Regions from separate parts of the Homo sapiens genome. Here region 1 is linked to region 2. Evidence: fine-mapped expression QTL. A gene starts in region 2. The other region holds a variant in brackets. All regions are shown on one strand. Distances are from middle to middle. Region 1 overlaps VPS51 (VPS51 subunit of GARP complex). Region 2 holds the start of CAPN1 (calpain 1).

What was found. PIP is the estimated chance that this variant, and not a neighbour inherited with it, causes the effect. A credible set is the group of variants that fine-mapping cannot tell apart.
Region 1: its variant is the best candidate, but not a certain one, in a credible set for the expression of CAPN1 in whole blood (INTERVAL, PIP 0.83).

What each region holds. Positions count from the first base shown.
Region 1 is chr11:65,103,415-65,107,794 of GRCh38, reverse strand. It overlaps VPS51 (VPS51 subunit of GARP complex), which reads right to left. Exons shown (of 10, transcript NM_013265.4): 3 at 68-214. Among named protein-coding and RNA genes, the nearest start is that of TM7SF2, 6.3 kb to the left of the region's middle. The variant G/A (reference allele first, on the strand shown) is at 1,889.
Region 2 is chr11:65,179,451-65,183,830 of GRCh38, reverse strand. CAPN1 (calpain 1) reads right to left here and starts at 1,903. Exons shown (of 22, transcript NM_005186.4): 1 at 1,818-1,903; 2 at 863-1,130; 3 at 634-703; 4 at 239-357. The coding sequence starts at 1,129. It overlaps CAPN1-AS1 (CAPN1 antisense RNA 1), which reads left to right and starts at 1,997. Exons shown (of 2, transcript NR_145677.1): 1 at 1,997-2,606; 2 at 2,759-3,960. RefSeq lists enhancers at 1-637, 638-1,426, 1,427-2,216 and silencers at 1,239-1,533, 2,135-2,584.

The DNA.
Region 1 (4,380 bases), 76 kb after region 2:
CGGAGGGTGACGTTAGCCCCAGAGCCCCAGGAAAGGCCCACTGCAGGCCCTGCCCGGCAGCGCCCACCTGCCAGCTTGGTGATGCGCTCGTGGCGGTCCTGCAGCGTGGCGCTGATGCGAGCGCTGAAGTCGGTGATCACTGCCATGTTGGTGGCCAGCCGGTCCATCTCATCCTCCATCTTCCGGAAATCGTTCTTCATCTTCCGGATGGTGTCTAGGAGGGCAGGGGCGGGGAAAAGGGGAGAGCAGGTGACTGCAGGGCGGGCGCAACCTCAGCTCCTTCTCACCCACCCCTTCACAGACGCCCCAGCTTGCTCCAGGGGCGCATGGATGATTCCAGAGAAAGGACTGCGAGGGCGTGGGTCACAGCGCACATGGGGGCGGGGGAGGGGGTTTATGTTCCCAAAGCAGGCGTTACTCACATACTCCCCGTAACCCCCTAACCCTGGTGCCCAGGAGAGCCGGCCCTCAGAATTAGTCCAGATCCGAAGCAGGCCGCAGGTGCTTAGCCAGCTGCCACCACTGTGCCTCAACTGCTCCATCAGACCACAAGCAGCCAAGGCAGGGACCGCTGGCTCCCAAGCGCATCTGCGTGTCCAGCGCACTGCCTGGATGAGGCAATACATTCTTGTTGACCCTCATCTCCTTTCCAGACCTCCCAAAGCCTTTCACATGCTTTCCGGAACATGGGCTGTCTTCTCTGAAGGGCCCTTTCCCTTTGGTCCTGATAGAATCCTGCCTAGGGAGGCTGTTTTTCCTTTCACACACCAGGTGCCTGGGAGCCTGGTCCCTTCATGCTTCTAAATCATGCCTAGATCTCCTCTCTTCAAAACCCCGGCTTCTAGGAAGACCATGCCATCAAGCCACAACCCTCCTCTTTGCTGTCTCTACTGTCCTCTGACACTCCTCTCAGTTCCCCATCACTGCCTCTTCTCCTCCTCCTGTCACCTCCTTGTGCACATCCACATGGATGAGCCTTCCAATGTTCCTGACTGTTCACTGACGGCCTCAATTCAATTCCACCTATTCTTTTTTTTTTTTTTTGAGACTGAGTCTCGCTCTGTCGCCCAGACTGGAGTGCAGTGGCACGACCTCTGCTCACTGCAAACTCCAATTCCCAGGTTCACACCATTCTCCTGCCTCAGCCTCCCAAGTAGCTGGGACTACAGGTGCCTGCCACCACACCCAGCTAATTTTTTGTATTTTTAGTAGAGATGGAGTTTCACCATGTTAGCCAGGATGGTCTTGATCTCCTGACCTCATGATCCGCCCACCTTGGCCTCCCAAAGTGCTGGGATTACAGGCATGAGCCACCGCACCCGACGAGGTCTGATGGTTTTATAAGGGGCTCTCCCTGCTTCGCTTAACACTTCTCCTTCCTGCTGCCTTGTGAAGAAGATGCCTTGCTTCTCTTTCACCTTCTGCCATGATTGTAAGTTTCCTGAGGCCTCCCCAGCCATGCTGTGAACTGTGAGTCAATTAAACCTCTTTCCTTTATAAGTTACCTAGTCTCGGGCAGTTCTTTACAGCAGTATGAACCTGGATTAATATACCTAGTAATCAATCCATTACCAAGTCATGGAAGGTCTACCTGCAACATTTTCTTTGTAAGCCACTATCATCTCTTGTCCAACAACTGCCAACATTTCCCAACTAATTTCCCTAATTCCATTGAACATACCAACAATGTTCATAAAGAAAGGCGAAGAGGATAAGACAGAAATGTGTATCTGTAACAGGAGATATTTTGGTTTTGTTTTGTTTGAGAAAGAGTCTCACTCTGTCACCCAGGCTGGAGTGCAGTGGCGCGATCTCAGCTCTGGAGGCTCCTGGAGGGTGGCACGCCCGGGGAGGGCATGGAAACTCCATGCTCCTTCTCCTACACCTC[G/A]CCCTATGCACCTGCTCATCTGTACCCTTTGTAACATCCTTTGTAATAAACTGGTAAATGTGTTATCCTGAGCTCTGTGAGCCACTCCAGCAAACTGAGCCCAAAGAGGGAGTTATGGAAACCCCTACCTGGAGCCAGTTGGTCAGAAATTCTGGAGGCCTGAGGCCCTGACCTGCAGCTAGTGCCTGAAAGTGGGGAGGCAGATTTGGGACTGAACTAGTGCCTGAAGGGAGGCAGGCTTGGGGACTCAGCCCTCAACTCATGGAATCTGATGCTATCTCTGGGTAAATAGTGTTGGAATTAAATCAGAGGACACCCAGCGGGTGTCTGCTGCTTGGTGTGTGGGGAAGAAACCCAACACATTTGGTCACAGAACTCTTCTGTGGTCATGATTGTGGTGATGTGAGAGCATAGGAAGCACACAGTTTGCATTTTTCCCAAACAATGCCATAAAATATATACAAACCTTTCCATATGGTAGATCACAAAGAAAAAAACCTCATTCTTTTTTTTTTTTTGAGACAGGGTCTCCCTCCGTCGCCCAGGCTGCAGTGCAGTGGCGCGATCTCAGCTCACTGCAACCTCCACCTCCTGGGTTCAAGCGATTCTCCTGCCTCAGCCCCGAGTAGCTGGGATTACAGGCACGTGCCACCATGCCTGGCTAATTTTTGTACTTTTAGTAGAGAGGGTTTCACCATGTTGGCCAGACTGGTCTCTGACCTCAAGTGATCCACCCGCCTCGGCCTCCCAAAGTGCTGGGATTACAGGCGGGAGCCACCGTGCCCAGTCGAAAAAACCTCATTGTTAACCAATTATGAGGTCAGAAAAGGAAATCAAAACTGAAATTGCAGCATGGGTAAAATACCAAGAAAACACTAAATTGGTAAGGGCTTGGTGAATTCTATGGATGAAATGGATAATTTGCTACAAAAATAGGATTTACCAAAATGGATTGCAAAAAACAAGAAAACAGAAACAGAAAAACTAGAGAATGTTGTGAAAGAAAGGTCCTACTCCCCTTTCCCCTCCACACAAAGGCATCTGGCCCAGATGTCCAGGGGTGTTGCGGCGGCTTGAAGGACAGCGCCTTCCAATTCTCTGTGTAAACACTGCCCCAGCAGAGAAACGAGAACAGCTCTCACACAAACTTGATGGAACAAACATAACACTGTTATGAAAACATAACAGAAATACCTCACATATACACATTCATATCTCTTATGAATGGAGATGCAAGGATGAATTAAATAAACAAATGGAGATGCACAAATAAGCAAACAAAATCCAGCAGCATATTAAAATAATAATTGATAAACACAAAAGGGTTTTTGTTTCATGAATGCCAGGATGACTCAAAATTAGAGGATCTCATAATAATTTGCCATGTTAATAGATATTTCAACATCTATTCTTGATTTTTAAAAAACTCTCAATAACATATGAGCAGCTAAATATTTCCCTGACCTCCAAAACTCAGTATCATGTTTACCGAGGCAGTGCTAGAAGCACTCCAATTAAAGTCAAAACATGGCAAGGACAACCTTGATTGCCAATGTTATCTACATTGTTCTGGGGCATTAGCCAACTCAGCTAGAGTCACGAGATGTATTATGGAGATACACAAATTGGAAAGGAGGGAGAAGTATCACTATTTGCAGATGATATAATCAAATAAATAGGCCAGCCACGGTAGCTCATGCCTGTAATCCCAGCACTTTGGGAGGCCGAGGCAGGCAGATCACTTGACGTCAGGAGTTTGAGACCAGCCTGGCCAACATGGTAAAACCCTGTCTCTAGTAAAAATACAAAAAGTAGTTGGGCGTGGTGGCAGGTGCCTGTAATCCTAGCTACTGGGAAGGCTGAGGCAGGAGAATCGCTTGAACCCTGGAGGCACAAGTTGTAGTGAGCTGAGATTGTGCCACTGCACTCTAACCTGAGTAATAGAGCAACACTCTGTCTCAAATAATAATAATTGAATAAATAGAAAGCCCTAAAAAAAAAAAACAAAAAAAAACACCCTGTAAACGTTACTATAAACAATAAGAGATACCACTTTTCACTTCTCAGATTGTCAAAGATTGAAAGAGGTATTCTCTTCTTTGCTGGTGGTTATGCAAACTGATCAGCATTTACAAAGAAGAATCTGGAAATATCTAACTGCAATCACTTGTGAGCCTTCACACACCCACACCTGGTCTGTGTGTGGCTCTGGGACTGTAGGAATGTTCTCCAAGCAACACTGGGAATCTACCCCACTTGGGGAGACAGCTGGAAGGGTGAGTAAGGAGAAAAGCATTGATGTCAATTTGACAAGAAACAAACAGAAACAAAAAATGCAGGAAAAAAATATTAGAGAAAATATAAGAGAAAGAACTGTCTGAGACAAAGAATCTACAGGGCTCACATCTGTAGAGCTATTAAGGGATTTTTTAAAAAATTACATGGAAAGGTAGATTACGTATCAGCAAAATGGACTTTTCATTTTAACAACA
Region 2 (4,380 bases):
TGTTCTTTCAAGCACTTTCCACCTGATACATACAACCACCTAGGAAAACTGCCAGCCGAAATACCTGCCCAGCCCAGTCACTTCACACATGACAGACCCGAGATGGCACTGAGAGGTCAAATACCTGCTAGAGGGAGGGCTGGCCCCACAGGGTGTGGCCCTAACTGCAGGTATTGTGGGTCATCCTTCCGCATCTCCCCCAGTGCCTGCTGCCCCTCCTCCCCAGGGGAGCCCTCACCTGGAAATGGAAGATGCCGGCATAGCCATTCTGGAAGCTCTGGCCGTGCGGAACCACTCGGTGCAGGAGGGTGTCGTTGAGAGTGAGGGAGGCGATGGCCGCCAAGAGCCAGCAGTCCCCTGGGGCAGGAGGGATGCACATTAGCCTGCTCTACCAACCTGCCCCGGGGGGGGAAGCGGGTGCTAGGGAGAATCTGGGGTTCCTTGGCCAGGGTGCCACTTAACTCCCCTCAGCTTGCAGAAAAGACCCAGGAATCTGGGCAAACCAGCCCCAGCGCTGATAGCCAGATCCTGCCTGGGCTTGCAAGAGGGAGGGGTTGGGGCAGAGCCTGAAGGAGCGGGAATGGGGAACTACTGTGGAAAAAATACCCGGGACCCGACGCCCTGGGGGCCTACCCAGTGCTCCCTGGCAGATGTCTGTGCGGGTAGCTCCATCCACAATGAACTGGGGGTTTGACAGCAGTTCCTACGAGAGACCCAGAGTCCTGTTCCTCGGCCAGCCCCTCCCAGAAATTGGCACCAGGCCACCCCAGACCCCATTCCCCACCAGGGACATGGAGTCCCATCCCTACTCCTCATCCAGGATCTGGCTTAGCCGAGTCCCACCCAGGATGGCCCCTCTCACCGTGGGACGCTTCCACTTGATGCCATAGGTCTTGGAGGAATTGGGACCCAGGTCCTTGTAACCCAGGCTCTGGGGTACCGGGGGGAAGGCCTCATCACGGAAGAGGGTCCCACTCTGCAGGCATCGCACCCGCAGCTGCTCATAATCCTGGCCCAGGTACTTGATGGCATTCTCATGGCGGCCCAGGCCCAGCTCCCTGGCCCGCTGCTTCTGCACTTGGGCTGACACCCCAGTGCAGTACACCGGCGTGATGATCTCCTCCGACATCCTGCCGGACAGATGGGCCTGCTCAGAACCCAGGCCTTCCCAAGACTAGAACCTGGGCTCCTGCCTGCAAGCTCTGCTCTCCTGCCCCTGCTTATCCATCCCCAAACCTAGGGTTTCCCTGCCTCACTGCTCCCCTCACAGAAGTAGGGTTCTCAGCCACCTCCCGGTGCTCCCAGTGAATCCAGGAAAGGGATTTCCCAGTTCCCAGGCGTGCCGGCCACCTCTCCTTTCCCGGATCCCATTGTCAGGGGCTTGCAGCTCTGTAGTGAGCCAGCAGGTCAGGTGGGGCAGGGCGGAGCCTCCAGACAGCACAAGGAACTGGGCAGGTGGGACACAGCAGGGAAGGCCTCTTTGATCCTGTTCACAGGCCTGCAACCCCCTCCCCAAACTAACCAAGCTCCTGGTGCACCGGCCCCTTGCCGTGGGCTGAAAACCCCAGACGGTCGGGGTCCCCCTCCTCAGGCCCCCGCAGCAGGCTCGATATCAGAGCTGGTGGGCCCTAGCCCAGCCCCTGGGGACAGCGGTGAGCCAGGCTGGGACAGGCGCCTGGGCTGTGCCGCTCCGCCAGCCCCCACCCCTGCTCCAGGAACGCAGAGGCCCCCGAGAAGGGACCGTGCTGGGGCAGCCCCTCAGCCCAGGAGCAGTGGCCAGGGTCAAGGAATCCCGGCTCGGCTACCCAGCTTCTTACCTGGGGGAGGGGTGTTTGGGGGTCGCTGCAGTCCCTGAGGCTGGCTTCCCGGTGGCAGCTCAGGGCAGGGCCCAACCAGGAAGAGCGCTCCTCCCCGCCCTCCTCCCGCCGCCCCTCCGCCCTCCGCCCTCCCTCTCTCCTTCTCCTCCTCCTCCTCCTGGGGCTCCTACCCCGCTTCCTCTCGGCTCTCCCTTATCTCTCCGGCACGGTCTCTGACTATCTCTTACTCACGGTGTCTCCCCGCCCCTCCCTCCGCAGGCCGGGGGCCAATTCCGCGAGAGGACAAATTAGTAAAAGGCAGAGCAGTCCCCGGGGAGGGGCCAGCGCGGGGGGGGATGGGGGGGCTGGGGCGCGGCGGAAGGGCACCGCGGGGAACGGAGGGGGAGGGCCGGGCAGGGGGTATTTTTAACCAGGGGCAGCAGCTCGAGTTGCAGGGCCGGACGGCCGCACCCCACGCGCGCCCTGGCGGGCATTCCGGGGCGATTGTGCGGCGGCGCCGCCTCCCGCAGCCCCGGGCCCGCCCGGTCCCCAGCTCCCCTCGCTCCGCGCGACCGCAGCTGCTCCCGCCGTTCCCAGCCAGCCCCGGCGCGGGGCCGAGATTACCTCGGGCTGCGGCAGCTGCTCTGAGGAGGGGCCGGGCTGGCAGCGAGCAGACCCCTGCCGGACACTCAGCAAACGGCAGCCTCACCCCGCAGGGCCGCGCCACTCCCCTTCCCCACCCCACCGCCGCGTCCCGGCTCAGCGCTCCCCGGGGAACGCAGGGGGACCGGGCTCGCTGCGTGACCTTGGGTAAGTCCCTGCCCCGTTCGGCCCGACTTTCCGCATGCGTGCATCCTATGGGATGGGGTTGGGCAATTGTGGGAGCCCATCTTTCTCTAACGTTCTGGGGTTTCTTGAACCTGGAAACTTAGAGAGGTGGACATCCCTGTTCTCTCCCCCAGGCTCTCAGCCCACCCACCTGGAAGCGCCCATGTGTCACCTTACCCAGGAGAGGGCGGCAGAGGCTGCGAGCAGGACGGCAGCCCCCTCTCCCCACCCCCAGGACCCTGAGATCCTGCTTCACGGGCTGCAAGAAGTTGGGGGGCCAGGATTCGGCGCGGAGGCCGGGGGTGTGGGTGGGGAGACTGCAGAGACTCCCGAGACCCCCCCAAGTCAGGGCTTTTCGCTGGTCTCGCAGCCCCAGCCCAGCAGCTGCTGCAGTCTTGCATGTTGTGGATGCAAGCATTTTGCTGAGGAAACTGCATAGCGTTCCCAGGACTCTAGGGCCCACGACCCCTCAAAAGTTAAGAGCCGCTGATCTAATCTAACCCCACTTTCACCCTCAGTTAACAAAAGAGGAAAACTGAGGCCTGAGAGGGTGTGACTTGCCTGAAATACCTAACCTGGTGAGTGATGGGTGGAACCAGCTCCTAGGCTTTCTGCGCAGGTGTCCAGGGACAGAGAAGGGTGGTTTAAACTAGAGAGGTGGCAGGCAGAAGTAGATGGATTTGATAACTATTTAGGATACACCATCAAAATTTAACTCAAACTGGATTACACACCTAAATATAAATGGCCAAACCATAAAACTTTTTTTTTTAAAAATGGAGACAATCTTAACAATATTGGGTTTGAAAAGATTTCTTTTTTCTTTTCTAAAGGCAGGGTCTTGCTTTCATTGACCAGGCAGGAGTGCAGTGCCCTGATCACAGCTCACTGTAACTTTAAACTCCTGGGCTCAAGAGATCCTCTCACCTCAGCCTCCTGAGTAGCTGAGACTACAGGCACGTGCCACGACACACAGCTAATTTTTAAATTTTTTGTAGAAATGGGGTCCTGCTGTGTTACTCAGGCTGGTCATGAACTCCTGGGCTCAAGCAGTCCTCCTGCCTGAGCCTCCCAAAGTGCTGGGATTACAGGTGTGAGCTTTGGCACCTGGCCAGATTTCTTAAATATGACACAAAAAGTGTAAATGATAGAAGAAATCAATAAATTGAACTTCATCAAAATAAAACGCTTTTGTTTCTCAAAATGCACGAAACTATTAAAAATGAAAAGATAAGCCATAGACTAGGACGAATATTTGTAAAAATTCTATCTGATGTAGGACTTGTATAAAGAACTTTTACAATTGAATAAAAATCCAATAAAAATGGACAAAACATTTGTTTGTTTTCTGGTGTTTGTTTTTGTTTTTGAGATGGAGTCCCGCTCCATCACCCAGGTTGGAATGCAGTGGCGCGATCCTGGCTCACTGCAACCTCCACCTCCTGGGTTCAAGCAATTCTCCTGCCTCAGCCTCCCCAGTAGCTGGGATTACAGGCGCCCGCCACCACACCAGGCTAATTTTTGTATTTTTAGTAGAGACAGGGTTTCACCATGTTAGCCAAGCTGGTCTCAAACTCCTGACCTCAAGTGATCTGCACGCCTCTGCCTCCCAAGGTGCTGGGATTACAGGGTGAGCCACCGCGCCTGTCAAAAAATGGACAAAACATTTGAACAGACACTTCATCCAAAAAGATCTCTGGATGGCAAATAGGCACATTAAAAAACACTGAGTGCATTACTCTTAGGGAAATGCAAA